Homo sapiens: one gene and its partners. The protein of the gene in region 2 interacts with the protein of the main gene of each other region in a biochemical or structural test. Each region holds a gene or a part of one and is shown on either strand. Other genes may lie near its edges.

What was found.
Region 1: of the proteins of CASP6 (region 2) and MAPT, one has a biochemical effect on the other in vitro, tested with the Homo sapiens proteins (2 studies listed by BioGRID).
Region 3: of the proteins of CASP6 (region 2) and NUCB1, one has a biochemical effect on the other in vitro, tested with the Homo sapiens proteins (one study listed by IntAct).
Region 4: of the proteins of CASP6 (region 2) and PARP10, one has a biochemical effect on the other in vitro, tested with the Homo sapiens proteins (one study listed by IntAct).

What each region holds. Positions count from the first base shown.
Region 1 is NC_000017.11:45,991,737-45,995,779, reverse strand, and holds part of MAPT (microtubule-associated protein tau), read right to left. Parts: intron 1,857-4,043; coding exon of another isoform or gene 1,803-1,856; intron 1-1,802. UniProt on the Homo sapiens protein: Promotes microtubule assembly and stability, and might be involved in the establishment and maintenance of neuronal polarity.
Region 2 is NC_000004.12:109,690,424-109,693,625, forward strand, and holds part of CASP6 (caspase-6 isoform alpha precursor), read right to left. Parts: intron 587-3,202; coding exon 427-586; intron 1-426.
Region 3 is NC_000019.10:48,913,495-48,917,537, reverse strand, and holds part of NUCB1 (nucleobindin-1 precursor), read right to left. Parts: coding exon 3,974-4,043; intron 1-3,973. UniProt on the Homo sapiens protein: Major calcium-binding protein of the Golgi which may have a role in calcium homeostasis. Acts as a non-receptor guanine nucleotide exchange factor which binds to and activates alpha subunits of guanine nucleotide-binding proteins (G proteins).
Region 4 is NC_000008.11:143,979,834-143,983,777, forward strand, and holds part of PARP10 (protein mono-ADP-ribosyltransferase PARP10), read right to left. Parts: coding exon 3,334-3,944; intron 3,233-3,333; coding exon 3,099-3,232; intron 1-3,098. UniProt on the Homo sapiens protein: ADP-ribosyltransferase that mediates mono-ADP-ribosylation of glutamate and aspartate residues on target proteins. In contrast to PARP1 and PARP2, it is not able to mediate poly-ADP-ribosylation.

The DNA of each region.
Region 1 (4,043 bases), on a different chromosome or scaffold from region 2:
CCTTCAGAACAGGATGCCTGCTCCACGCCTGCCTGTCCCTAGCTGTCCACACGAGCCATACCGCTTCATGCTGCTGTGCCCTGACGTACAGTTCCCCACCTGCCATGCATAGCAGTTACTAGCGCACCCTTCCAACACCCTGGAAGCTGCTGGGGGGTCTCTTCTCCTCTCCATGCAGATGCTGTCCCTCCCTCCTCTGGGTGTCCTTTACCCTCAAACTTGCTTCTGTTACTGCACTTCCCAGGCCCCCGTTACACTTCAACAGTCTGGTATTCTATCTCATGGGTCTGTATTTTCCAAAGTGTGGCCCACGGAACCCTGCGTCAGAATCTCCGGAGCTTTCAAGGAGGAAAGTGGGAGTTGCAAAATGCAAATTTCTCGATCCCCTTCAAGAGTGGATAGAGCAGAATCTCTAGGGGTGGGACCTGCAAAGCCTCATTTTTCTCAAGCTCCACAAAGACTGAAGTCTGAGAACCGCAGGCCTCACCCTGTGCCGAGGTGTGCTTAGCTCCCCTGCAGTCTGAGAACTTAGCTTTCCTGCAAGTCCAGAAGCTTCCCGCAGCAATGCCCCTGCCGCTGCCCCAGGCATTTGCTGTAACACATACCTGCTGGCCAGACCTGGAGAAGGGCAGCTCTTTGAAGCACCCATGTAGCCAATGGGCAGCTTGGCCAGTGACGAATAAGCACTAGTTTTCTTTTGTTGTTGTTTTGTTTTTTTGTGGTTTTTTTTTTGAGACGGAGTCTTATTCTGATGCCCAGGCTGGAGTGCAATGGCGTGATCTCGGCTCACTGCAACCTCCGCTGCATGGGATCAAGCGAGTCTCCTGCCTCAGCCTCCCGAGTAGCTGATATTACAGGTGTGCAGCACCACGCCTGGCTAATTTTTGTATTTTTAGTAGAGACTTATTTTAGTAGAGACTGGATTTTTGTATTTTCAGTAAAGATTTCTTTAGTAGAGGTTTTACCATGTTGGCCAGGCTGGTCTTGAACTCCTGACCTCAGGTGATCCACCCGCCTCGGCCTCCCAAAGTGCTGGGATTATAGGCATGAGCCACCGCACCCAGCCAGCACCAGTTTTTAGAATTTGACTTCCATGTCTTTTTTAAAAATAATGTTTTTTATAGAGACGGGGTCTGACTATGTTGCTCAGGCTGGTCTTGAACTTCTGGCCTCAAGCGATTCTCCCACCTCAACCTCCCAAAGTGCCGGGATTATAGACGTGAGCCACCGTGCCCTGCGGATTTCCATGTCTTGGATGTTCCTGAAGTAGTACGCTCTGTGGCAATAGGACAAACGAAGCCTCTTATTTTCCACATAAGGAAACAACAGATGGGGCCTCGGCCTCCAGGGCCTCCAGGCTCAGCCTCTCTGCCTCCTCAGACCTCCCATCCTCCTGCCTCCCTGACTTCAGAGACCCAGGGTGACCAGTGGGCTTGGTGGTGGTGGCTCCAAATACTTTTCATGCCTCTTATTTACAGAGTGGTCGTGGGCAAGTCACCTGACCTCCTTAAGCCTATGTCTTCATCTGAAACATAGGGAGACAGCCAGGCATGGTGGCTCATGCCTGTAATGCCATTGTCCCTGAAGTCAAGGAGAGCACACAGGATTAGAAAGCCCATCAGACAAACACAGCTGCGCAAACTGCACAGGGAAGAGAATTCGGACTGCTCCATCTTCAGGCTGCGAACCCTGTGTGAACCCTGCATTGCAGAAAAGGGTCCTCCCGGCTCTAGAAACACAAGCCAGTGAATGGCCACACACGCAAAGGGAGGCTGCTCCCAGCGAAGTAGGCTCCCGAGTACCTCTCTCAGATCTGGGCCCTGCAGGGGGTGGTCTTCTCTGGACTTGCTTAGTCGCTTAAAGAGAAAAATCCACGAAAGCCTTATTATCATCAGGCTTAAACAGGGCCTTAATGAGTCCTTCACGTGGCAGGCACCCACAGCTGGCCCAGCAGGGGCCCCATTCTGAAACAAGGTCGAGGGGCCCAAGGGGGAGGGTCTCTCCACCTGCAGGCAGCCACCGAAGAGCAGGTAAGACCCAAAGGGAAATGCATCACGTTGTTTCAGGTTGTTACAAAGTGTGAGTCCCCTGTAATCCCAGCACTTTGGGAGGCCGAGGTGGGCGGATCACTTGAGGTCAGGAGTTCGAGACTAGGCTGGCCAAAATGGTGAAACCCTGTCTTTACTAAAAATACAAAAATTAGCAGGGCGTGGTGGCCTGTGCCTGTAGTCCCAGCTACTCAGGAGGCTGAGGCAGGAAAACTGCTTGAATTTGGGAAGCAGAGGTTGCAGTATGCCAAGATTGTGCCACTGCACTTCAGCCTGGGTGACACAGTGAGACTCCGTCTCAAAAAAACAACAACAAAAAACAGAGTGTGAGTCAACTGGCCCGATGTTAAGTGAAAAAAAAACAGCAGGATCCAAACGCTACTTAAAATCCTGTCAAAATTCTGGGAATTATCCCTGGATCACATGTATATGAGAAAAACACCAGGCCAGAAAACACGAAGCGAAAAGACAAAAACAATGGGCCTTAGTGAATGGCCATCCTTGGGGGTGCCACTGCACGGCATGTGTGCGAGAAATGCCACCGCAAAGACACGCAGCAGGTGGTGGGCAGGCTCTGGGCAGCTCCCTCAGGCCAGGGAGAAGCAGAGTCACCAAGATCCAAGATCCAGGCCAGGCTTTGGTCACAGCCCGCAGCAAGTGCCATAGGCTGCCCGTGCCACCAAGGAGCAAGTGCAGGTCAGACACCCCTACATGGTGCAGAGTCTAAACCCAGGGGCCTGGAATACTTCACTGGGGCAATGGAAGAGAGAAGTGCTCGGGCAGGCAGGCAGGCTGTCCCTAATCCCCAAAGAGGACGACTGTTTTTTTTTTTTTTTTTTTGAGAAGGAATCTCACTTTTGTCATCCAGGCTGGAGTGCAATGGTGCGATCTCAGCTCACTGCAACCTCTGCCTCCTGGGTTCAAGTGATTCTCCTTCCTCACCCTCCTGAGAAGCTGGGATTACAGGCGCCCGCCACCACGCCCAGCTAATTATTTTGTATTTTTATTAGAGACGGGGTTTTGCCATGTTGGCCAAGCTGGTCTCGAACTCCTGACCTCAGGTGATCCGCCCACCTTGGCCTCCCAAAGTGCTGGGATTACAGGCATGAGCCACCACGCCCAGCCGCGACTGTTCTTAATAGCACTCCTGGCTGCAAAATAACTCAATGGATGCCTTACTGGGTACTCAAAATTGACTGGGTTTTACTCACAGGAGCCCAGGGCAACGGGCCCAGCCTGTGACTGCTCAGCTAAGACCCTCAGGTTTTGCAGCAGACTCCTAACGTCCCTAGCAAGTTAAGCTGCCCAGGGGTTGAGCCCTGAGTGACGTCACCCATTGTGACTTATCCAGGCTGCTGCTCTGTCTCCAGAGACATTTGTCTCCAGAGTCTCATTTGGGGACTGAAAACATGCCATGCTGGGGCTGCCTCTATGGAACCCTGGACTTGGGGCCAGAGAGGCTCCGAGAGCTGCCACTTAGTAGTCATGTGACTGCATTTTCCTCGGGTTTAAAATGAGCTGGTTAGACTCAGTCAAGCAAACTCTCAGAGGCTCGATTTCTTTCTTTTTTTTCCTTTTTCTGTATTTTTTTTTATCATGCTGCAGAATCAGCCTCAATTTCTTCATTGATAAAAAGTGAGGATTCAGGCTGGGAGTGGTGGCTCATGCCTGTAATCCCAGCACTTTGGGAGGCCGAGGCAGGTGGATCACCTGAGGTCAGGCGTTCGAGACCAGCCTGGCCAACATGGTGAAACCCTGTCTCTACTAAAAATACAAAAAATTAGCCGGGCATAGTGGCAGGTGCCTGTAATCCCAGCTACTAGGGAGGCTGAGGTAGGAGAATCGCTTGAACCTGGGAGGTGGAGGATGCAGTGAGCTGAGATCACACCACTGCACTCCGGCCTGGATAACAAAAGCGAAACTCTGTCTCAAAAGAAAAAAAAAAAAAAAGGTAGGGATTCAACATTTGCCTCAGAAATCAAAAGGACTGAGAAG
Region 2 (3,202 bases):
AGGTGGGAGGATTGCTTGAGCCTGAGAAATTGAGGCTGCAGTGAGCCATGATCATGCCATTGCACTTCAGCCTCAGTGACAGAGTTGAGACCTTGTCTCAAAAAAAAAAAAAATTAAAGCTTTCCATGACAATTACCACAATGGCACTACCACCCTCAGTAACTGATGGTAGGCTGCTAATACTAATATAATTAATTAGACTGTTGCTTTACTCAACATAACTCTCAGGAATTATTTTTCTGTAAGGTACTTTACACTTTCATTTATCACTCTGTGCCATGTGGTCAAAGAAATTCTAAGTCTGTGAGCTTCAGGATGGAATCACCATGTCCCAACCGAAAGATCTGACCCAAACCAATCAAAGGTGAAACTTACAGGACCTTAGCCAAGAGAGGCAATTATATGTTTGTTTTAAACACCACACACCTTCTGCAACAGAGTAACACATGAGGAAGTCAGCTCCAGCAGGCAGCGTGTAAACGGAGGCTGCATCCACCTCAGTTATGTTGGTGTCCAACTTCTCTGTCTGATTATCTACTACATCCAAAGGAATGACTGGCACATCGTGCTGGTTTCCCCGACATGCCTACAAGACAAGGAGGAAAAACCCACCTCTTTGCCTACTGTTTCCTTCCCAGTGCTTAATGTGTGCAGTGAATGTGTAAGCCAGTACCCCTTCATTACAACAGAAACCACATTCTGAGCAGTTCAGAAGCAATACATTCAGGTTTGGAGGGCACAAAAGCCAACAAAGTTGTTTCCTTACTTAGGCTTTCTTTTAGTTAATGTTTTAAGAAAAAATTGGCATCCCCAAGTATACATCAAATTATGTTGGTAGAAGGGTATACTGTAGAGGAAAAAGCTTGTGGTTTTAAAATTTCTTACAGATTAACCACACCCAGGGCACACGGTGTTACCTTCCCTTTTGAAAGCTATAGTATTGACCTAAGTGTTTCTGTTTAGGCAGGCAGTGTATTTCCAGATTGACTTTTGCTTGCCTGGCTGCTGCTATAAATTGTTAGGAGTTAAAATGACATCCAGCCTGACCTGAGGAGATACCTACTAATGCACCATCTTCCTTGTGTGCCCATTAAAAAGTGAGGTCTCAAATTTTTACCCACTAATTCTGACTCACTCAGAATTTACATTAAATTTAGACTCATAATTAACATTAAATTCTGACTCACTCAGAGGCTAACATTAAACTCTTCTCATAAGTGACTTTTACAAGCTGAATTGTGTTCCCCAAAAATTCATATGTTGAAGTCCTAGCCCCAATACCTCAACTCTGACTGTATTGGAAGACAGGGCCTTTAGAGGTGATTAAGGAAAATGAGGTCATACGGGTGAAACCAAATCCAACATGACTAGTGTCTTCATAAGAAGAAATTGGGACACAGACATGCACAGAAGAAAGACCATATGAAGGCACAGGGACAAGATGGCCACCTACAAGCCAAAAAGGGAGGCCTCAGAAGAAACCAATCCTCCCCACACGTTCATCTGAGACTTCCAGCTCCAGGACTGTGACGATAAATTCCTGCTGTTTAAACCACACAGTCTGTGGTACTTTGTTATGGTCACCCTATACACGAATACAGCCAGCCAATAAGATTCTGTTGTAGCATTATAAATGCATCAATCAGTTCTGAAATGGTTAAAGAATTATGAGCATCAAAAGAAAGTCCTGAATGATTTCAAATCATAAAATAAATAGAAAATCCCTACTATCCCGTTTTTATAGGCAGATTTTAATCTTCGTATCAGCAGGCTTATTTTCAGGCCTTTTTTCTACTGTCCTTCCTAAATATAACAGAACACCTTTAACCTAATGACATCACCTGCCCAGTCAACTGCAATAAGAGTAAGAGCGAGCCTTTACTGAGGGCGTGCTGTATGCCAGGCACTGTTCTAAGTGGTTTGCATTCATTAAATCAGTCAGGTGATTTTGCCCACACAACCACCCCATGAGGCAGGTGCTCTTTTTACCAAGAATCTAAGGCATAGAGAGAGAAAGTAACTTGGAAAACGATTTCATTTGTGGCTTTCTTCCCACAGTAGCTCATTAGTTATTTCCAATTCTCTTGTGTTTGACAGTGTTGGCCACTCCCCTTTTCACAAAACAATCATGTCATTATTTGTTTCTTGTTTCTCTCCTGGTGTCCATCCTCCTCAGTATCTTCCCTCTTCAGCCCATTCCTCATGGGTGCCCCTCGGTTTTGTTTTATGCTCCTTTTTCAGGCTGTATTCAACACGAGTAAACTCATCTAATCCCATGGCTTCCACGACCACCTCCTGATTTATTTCTCCAGCCGAGGCCACCTGTCTTAGGTTCTACACCTGTATGACCAATTCCATGTCCCACAGACATTCCAATGCAGTTGTCCAAACCAGAAACGAGGCAGTCATTCTTCACTTACAGCCACTTCCTCACCCCAAAACAAGGCTTTATGGTAGGATGCGAAATGCAGTTTCATGTTTGATACGGTTTGAACGTCTGTCCCCTCCAAATCTCATGTTAAAATGTGGTTCCCAGTGTGGGAGGTGAAGCCTGGTGGAAGGTGACTGGATCATCGGGGAGGGTCTCTCATGAATGGTTTAGCATCATCCTCTTGGTGTAAGTGAGCTCCCACTCAGTTCACATGAAATCTGGTTACTTAAGAGAGTCTGGGACCTCTCCCTTGGCACTCTCTTGCTCCCACTCCCAACAAGTCATATGCTGGCTCTCTGTCACCTTCCACCATAATTGTAAGCTTCCTAAGGCCTCACCAGAAGCAGATGCCAGCACCATGCTTCCTGTACAGCCTGCAGAACTGTAGGCCAATCAAATCTCTCTTCCTTATAAATTACCCAGTCTCAGGTCTTTATAGCAATGCAAGAATAGACTAACATAATGTTATTTCATGTCCTCCATGCTATTCATGGAAATACAGAATTGTGACACTGGCATGTCAGGTTTCTCTTTTGTAGTTCAAAATCTTTGGCCGGGCACAGTGGCTCACGCCTGTAATCCCAACACTCTGGGAGGCCAAGGCGGGCAGATCACCTGAGGTCAGGAGTTCAAGACCACACTAGCCAACATGGTGAAACCCCATCTCTATGAAAATACAAAAATTAGCCAGCCATGATGGCAGGTGCCTGTAATCCCAGCTACTCGGGAGGCTGAAGTGGGAGAATAATTGAACCTGGGGGCGGAGGTTGC
Region 3 (4,043 bases), on a different chromosome or scaffold from region 2:
GCAACAGAGCAAGACTCTGCCTCAAAAAGAAAAAAAAAATTTAAAAATTGGCTGGGCATGGTGGTGTGCACCTATGATCCCAGCTACTCTAAGGGTTGAGGTGGAAGAATCACTTGAGCCCAGGAGGTCTGGGTTGCAGTGAGCCATGATCACGCCACTGCACTCCAGCCTGGGTGACAAAGGGAAGCCCCATCTCTAAAAATAAAAAAAATGAAAAATAAAAAAAGGTATAGGGAGTTGCTCTGAACCTATTCTGGTCTGTAGGGACTGCCTGATTAAAAAGATTAAATAAGGTTTTTATTTTTTTATTTTTTAGAGACAGGGTCTCACTCTGTCACCCAGGCTGGAGTGCAATGGTGTGATCGTAGCTCACTGAAGCCTTGAACTCCTCGGCTCAAGTGATCCTCCCACCTCAGCCTCCCAAGTAGCTGGGACTACAGATGCACGCCACCACACCCAGCTAATTTTTGTATTTGTTTTCATAGAGATGGGGTTTTGCCATGTTGCCCAGGCTGGTCTTGAACTCCTGGTCTCAAGGGATCCAGCCGCCTTGGCTTCGCAAAGTGCTGGGATTATAGGGGTAAGCCACTGCGCCGGGCCTATTTATTTGTTTATTTATTTTTGAGACAGAGTCTCGCTCTGTTGCCAGGCTGGAGTGCAGTGGCATGATCTCAGCTCACTGCAACCTCCACCTCCAGGGTTTAAGTGATTCTCCTGCCTCAGCCTCCTGAGTAGCTGGGACTGCAGGTGCGTGCCACCATGCCCAGATAATTTTTGTATTTTTAGTAGAGACGGGGTTTCACTATGTTGGCCAGGATGGTCTCGATCTCTTGAGCTCCTGATCTGCCTGCCTTGGCCTCCGAAAGTGCTGGGACTACAGGCGTGAGCCACTGAGCCCAGCCTATTTTCTATTTTTTAGAGACAGGGTTTCACTCTGTTGCCCAGGCTGGAGGGCACTGGTATGATCATAGCTCACTGCAGCCTTGAATTCCTGGACTCAAGTGATCCTCCCACCTCTGCCTCCCAAGGAGCTGGGACTACAGATGCACGCCACCACACCCAGCTAATTTTTGTATTTTATTTGTAGAGATGGGTTTGTGCCATGTTGCCCAGGCTGGCCTTGAACTCCTGGACTCAAGGGATCCACCCACCTCGGCCTCCCAAAGTGCTGGGATTACAGGCGTGAGCCACCGCATCCAGCCCAAATGTCCTCTCTAGAGCTGTGCTGGGACTCCAGTACAGCAGCCACTAGCCACATGGGGCAATTGAAATAGAAATTAATATCCAGTAGAATGAAAACTTCAGTTCCTCACCATTATGCTAAGTGAAATAAGCCAAACACACACACACACACACACACACACACGACAAATACCAAAAGATTCTACTTGCATGAAGTACCTAAAATAGTCAAAATCATAGAGACAGAAAATAGAATGGTGGTTGCTAGAGAGCAGGGGAAAGAAGGGGAGGGCGAGTGGTTTAATGGATACGGTTTCGGTTGTGCGAGATGAAGAGCTCTCAGAATTGGTTGCATGACAGTGTAAATATACTTAATACTATTGAACTGTACAATTAAACATCTTTAAAGCTGGGCGCAGTGGCACACACCTGCAGTCTCAGCTACTCAGGTGACTGAGGCAGGAGGATTGTTTGAGGCCTGGAGTTTGACTCCAGCCTGGGCAACATAGCAAGATCCTGTCTCAAAAAAAAAACAAAACAAAACACGGGGGGTGGTGCCCGGTGGGATGGCTCATGCTTGTAACCCCAGCACTTCGGGAGGCCAAGATAGGTGGATCGCTTGAGCAAAGGAGTTTGAGACCAGCCTGGGCAACATGGTAAAACCTTGCCTTTACTAAAAATTAAAAAAATTAGCCAGGCATAGTGGTACGTGCCTGTGGTCCCAGATACTTGGGAGGCTGAGGGGGAGGATCACTTGAACCTGGGTGGTCAAGGCTGCGAGGTAGTACACGTCACTACCTGAGACCCCATTACAGAATCTTCTAATTCTTTTTTACTTTCTATTGCTTTTTGAGACAGAGTCTCACTCTGTTGCCCAGGCTGGAGTGCAGTGGTGTGATCTCAGCTCATTGCAACCCCCGCCTTCCGCCTCCCGGGTTCAAGCGATTCTCCTACCTCAGCCTCCTGAGTAGCTGGGACTATAGGTGAGCACTACCATGCCTGGCTAATTTTTGTTTTGTTTTTTAATTTTTGTATTTTTAGTAGAGACTGGGTTTTGCCATGTTGGCCAGGCTGGTCTCCAACTCCTGGCCTCAAGGGACCCACCCGCCTAGGCCTCCCAAAGTGTTGGGATTACAGGCGTGAGCCACCACACCCGGCCTAGAACCTTCGTTGATTCTGAGATGCACTTTTGTGTTCTTCTATTTTATCACCCCTGAAATAGGGATGTATCTTTATTTATTTAACTTTTAATTTTTATTTTTTTCTTTGTTTTTTTGAGATGGAGTGTTGCTCTGTCACCCAGGCTGCAGTGCAATGGCACGATCTTGGCTCACTGCAAACTCTGCCTCCCGGGTTCAAGTGATTCTCCCACCTCAGCCTCCTGAGTAGCTGGGATTACAGGCACTCACGATCATGCCCAGCTAATTTTGGTATTTTTGTGGAGATGGGGTTTCACCATGTTGGCCAGGCTGGTCTTGAACTCCTGACCTCAGGTGATCCTCCCACCTCAACCTCCCAAAATGCTGGGATTATAGGCGTGAGCCACCACGCCTGGTCTATTTTTTTTTTTTAAATAGAGACAGGGTCTCACTTTGTTGTCCAGGCTGGTCTTAAATTCCTGGGCTCAAGCCATCTTCCACCTTGGCCTACCAAAGTGCTGGGATTACAGACATGAGCCACTACACCCAGCCCAGGACGCATCTTGTTTTCAATGGTACGTTAATTTAATTGGCAGCTTACGTAAAATGCTAGCACCTCTCATACTGTACAGTCTCGTGGAGTTACTAAAGTATGGTATGATCTGTGTGCCTGATCACTGGCTCTGAGGGGGAGGTACTTTGTTTTGTTTACAGTTGTATCCACGGGGTCTTGACAAAGCTTGGTCCTTAGAGGGAACTTAGGAAAGGTTTGCTGAATGAATGAGTCAGGCCTTGCTAAGCTTATCTGACCGGCTACAGATTCTGGGACAGGGTGCTTGGCATACCTGAGGGGGCTTGGCAACCCCAGGCCACATTTCCAGACAGGAAGAGACAGACTGAGGGGAGTGTGCCTTTGATCCACCATAGAGAAAGGGCTTTCGAGGCCGGGCGCAGTGACTCACGCCTGTAATCCTAGCACTTTGGGATGCTGAGGGGGCAGATCACACGAGGTTGGGAGTTCGAGACCAGCCTGGCCAACATGGTGAAACCCCATCTCTACTAAAAATACAAAAGTTAGCCGGGCATGGTGGTGCATGCCTGTAATCCCAGCTACTCGGGAGGCTGAGGCAGGAGAATCACTTGAACCCGGGAGGCGGAGGGCAGGGGGTTGCAGTGAGCCGAGGTCATGCCACTGCACTCCAGCCTGGGCAACAGAGCAAGACTCCATCTCAAAAAAAAAAAAAAAAAGGAAAAAGAAAAAGAGAAAGGGTTTTCCAGGCTTCTGGAGGCCTGGTTCTTAGGGAACAACCCACTCCTAGCGACAGGGTTCCCAGAGTGGACCAGGGCTTCTCCTGGGCTGCTGTGGGCAGAGGGCCCAGGCCTAGCCAAGCCTGGTTTGCTTACAGAGGACACCAGCTGTCCTTAGAACCCCGAGGTCTGGTGTTTGCTAGAAAAGAGGCCCAACCCTTCCATGCAGATCCTAGCCTTGTAGTCGGGAGAGGCAGGGCTGTCTGGTCAACCAGGGGACATAGGCTTGGCTCTTGGGCCTGACTAAGCCCTCCTGGGACAGACACACCCCTCTTAGCATTCAGGTCCTAGAAGGGTCAGAATCTAGGGTTCATCCTGGCTCTGGAACTCCCTCCCCACCTTACCATGCAGTATGAAGAAGGTCTTGGGGTTAAACCTGTTGGGGTCCAGTCCATCCAGCTCCTCCCACACCTC
Region 4 (3,944 bases), on a different chromosome or scaffold from region 2:
AAACCCCGTCTCTATTAAAAATACAAAATTTAGCCGGGCGCGGTGGCGGGCGCCTGTAGTCACAGCTACTCAGGAGGCTGAGGCAGGAGAATGGCGTGAACGCAGGAGGCGGAGCTTGCAGTGAGCCGACATCGTGCCACTGCACTCCAGCCTGAGTGACAGAGCGAGACTCCGTCTCAAAAAAAAAAAAAAAAAAAACCCGTCTCAGCCGGGCGCGGTGGCTCACGCCTGTAATCCCAGCACTTTGGGAGGCCGAGGTGGGCAGATCATGAGGTCAGGAGATTGAGACCATCCTGGCTAACATGGTGAAACCCCGTCTCTAATAAAAATACAAAAATAAGCTGGGCGTGGTGGCAGGCGCCTGTAGTCCCAGCTACTCAGGAGGCTGAGGCAGGAGAATGGCGTGAACCCGGGAGGCAGAGCTTGCAGTGAGCTGAGATTGCACCACTGCACTCCAGCCTGGGCTACTGAGTGAGATTCCGTCTCAAAAAAAAAAAAAAAAAAAAAAAAAAAAAAAACCATCTCTACTAAAAATACAAAAAGTAGCTGGGTGTGGTGGTGTGTGCCTGTAATCCCAGCTACTTGGGAGGCTGAGGCAGAATCACTTGAACCCAAGAGGTGGAGGTTGCAGTGAGCCGAGATCATGCCACTGCACTCTAGCCTGGGCAACAGAGAGAGACACTGTCTCAAAAAAATTATATATATAAATGTATATATTAATATATAAATGTATATGTTTAAACATATATGTTCACATATACGTAAATTTAAAAGTCAAATATGTTTAGCACCCACTCAAGGAGATACTCCCACTAAACAAAAGAGTCTGTGCCAAAAGGTGACAAGCGGGGTACTGAGTAACCCGGTGGTCAAGAATGGCCTGGAAAAAATGAAGAAAGTCAAAAAAAGAAAAGCCATTAGCCTTGAATCCTAGAACATCTTTTTTACAGAACAGAATTTTAATAACTAGGATTTCACTTCTCTTTCTATGGCTCAGTGGTAAATGTTTTTTCATTATTATAGTATGTCTACCAACCTATGGCCCACGCATGGAGGCTTTGTGATAGTTACAGAAACCTTTACGACATAATAAAAATAATGTAACTGACCAAATTGAGATGGAAGATGAGGGAGGAGGCAAAAGAGAGAGAAGCGAGGCCCATTCTCCTCATCTTCCATGCGGGAAGGCAAGAAACAATCTCTAAAGCTGTCAAGTGAAAAAAAAAAATTCAAGCATACCATTTAAAGTCATCAAGGTGCTCACTAAATTCAAGCATACCATTTAAAGTCATCAAGGTGCTCACCGGAAGAACCAAGTACGTATAATTAACAAAACCACCAGGATATGAGGTCAGTGCGTCTGGGTGGTGGTGATCCTGGTGGCGGTGAGCGGTGACGGTGTGTTGGTGAAGCTGACGGTGACAGTGGTGATGCTAATGGTGGTGATGATGGTGGCCACGGTGGTGGTGGTAGTGGTGGTGGTGATGGTGGTGACGACAGTGAGTGGTGAAGGTGATGGTGATGATGGTGGTGACGACAGTGAGTGGTGAAGGTGATGGTGATGATGGTGGTGACGACAGTGAGTGGTGAAGGTGGTGGTGATGATGGTGGTGACGACAGTGAGTGGTGAAGGTGGTGGTGATGATGGTGGTGACGACAGTGAGTGGTGAAGGTGGTGGTGATGGTGGTGACGACAGTGAGTGGTGAAGGTGATGGTGATGATGGTGGTGACGACAGTGAGTGGTGAAGGTGGTGGTGATGATGGTGGTGACGACAGTGAGTGGTGAAGGTGATGGTGATGATGGTGGTGACGACAGTGAGTGGTGAAGGTGGTGGTGATGATGGTGGTGACGACAGTGAGTGGTGAAGGTGGTGGTGATGATGGTGGTGACGACAGTGAGTGGTGAAGGTGATGGTGATGATGGTGGTGACGACAGTGAGTGGTGAAGGTGGTGGTGATGATGGTGGTGACGACAGTGAGTGGTGAAGGTGGTGGTGATGATGGTGGTGACGACAGTGAGTGGTGAAGGTGGTGGTGATGATGGTGGTGACGACAGTGAGTGGTGAAGGTGGTGGTGATGATGGTGATGGTGATGGTGGTGGTGATGACAGTGAGTGGTGAGGGTCATGGTGATGGTGTGATGGTGGTGGTGATGGTGATGGGGTGATGGTGATGATGGTGGTGATGATGGTGGTGAGGGTCATGGTGATGGTGTGATGGTGGTGATGATGGTGGTGAGGTCTGGGGACAGCCAGAGGTTCTTTTTGCATTTCTGACCAGCTCCTGGTGGAGGGTGATGCTGCTGGCCCCACGCACAACTTTGGGCATCAAGAGTTGAGAGTGCCCCGTGCAAGGCCGGGCGCGGTGGCTCACGCCTGTAATCCCAGCACTTTGGGAGGCCGAGGCGGGCGGATCACGAGGTCAGTAGATCGAGACCATCCTGGCTAACATGGTGAAACCCCGTCTCCACTAAAAATATTTTTTAAAAAATTAGCCGGGCGTGGTGGCAGGCGCCTGTAGTCCCAGCTACTTGGGAGGCTGAGGCAGGAGAATGGCGTGAACCCGGGAGGCGGAGCTTGCCGTGAGCCGAGATCGTGCCACTGCACTCCAGCCCAGGAGACACAGCGAGATGCCGTCTCAAAAAAGAGAGTGCCCCGCGCAGTGTCATCAGCACAGTGACCGCAGCGAGCCCGGGCCTTTCTGTGGAGGCAGAAGAGCGCCCAGAACAGCACAAGGGACGCATCTGTGGAGCGAGTAATCCTCAAAATGACCACAAGATGGCATCACCGCCCCATGCTCCAAATAAGGAAACTGAGGCCTGGAGCTGGTCCCATAGTCCCTGCTGACCCAGCCACGAGTGGCAGAGTGGGGACCCTCACTCAGGCCTATCAGATCCCAAGGCCCCCACTCTGTTCCCTCCTGTTTCCCTACCCACTTTGGGAACGCCCTCTGGGCAGAGAACAGGGCTGGGAGCCTGTCAGCTCCTGGTCAGCTGACCTTGATGTAGGCGAGAGGGACAGGCCACAGACTTGGCAAGGCGCTAATGGTGCAAGAGCCCAGGACGCCATGAGGCCAGAGAGACAGGGCATGGACTCACACGAACGACGCGGATGCTGCTGCGGGCAGCGTCCAGGGTGTCGTAGAAGGCCCGCACCACCTCCTGGAACTCCCCGGTGTTCTCTGCCAGACGCTCCAGGTTGTTCCAGGGCCCCTTCAGCGTCTGCCCCGCCACTGATGCATGGGGAAAAGCGGGGGGTCAGAGCCATGCCTGGGGCACTAGCCCCTGCTAACCAGCCCACCCCACCGTCCCTCAGTCCAGGAGGTAGACTCACAGGTAGGGCCTGAAGCTGCCAAGGGAAAGGCCAAACTCTGATCCCAGGGGCCAGCCAGAAGTGCCACCAAGTGGCGGGCAGCACGGGCAGGGTGGGCCCCGAAGCCACGGAGGATGGTGCAGTCACCACGCAGGGCAACACTCACACCATGGCACCGCTCCAGGCGAGCACGCAGCTCTGCAGGCAGTGTGCGGCGCCAGGGCCCCACCGTCTCCTCCTGGACGTGGACCTCCAAGGCAGCCCTGAGCGCCCGGTCCAGCTCCTCCACATCCTGCTCAAAGGCCGAGTGCACCACCAGCTGGGCCTTGCCATCAGTCCCCCCATCTGGGGGCTCTTCTGCCTCCAACGGGGGCTGCTCCAGCAGGGAGAGGGTTAGGGCTTGCCGCAGGGCAGCAGCCTCCTCCTGCTCAGCCACCTGACCTTGAGGCTCCAGTGACCGGTGGAGGGCCAGCTGCAGAGCGGCCTCCTCCTCCAGCCACCTGGGTGCCACAGTGCTGGGGGCCACAGGCTCCTCCTCCTCATGCCCTGGGGTCACCTCCTCCTCTGGCTGCTCCTGAGGCCCTTCCTCCTCCAGCTCCCGAGGCAGCCAGTCCTCCCCGTCTAGGTCTAGG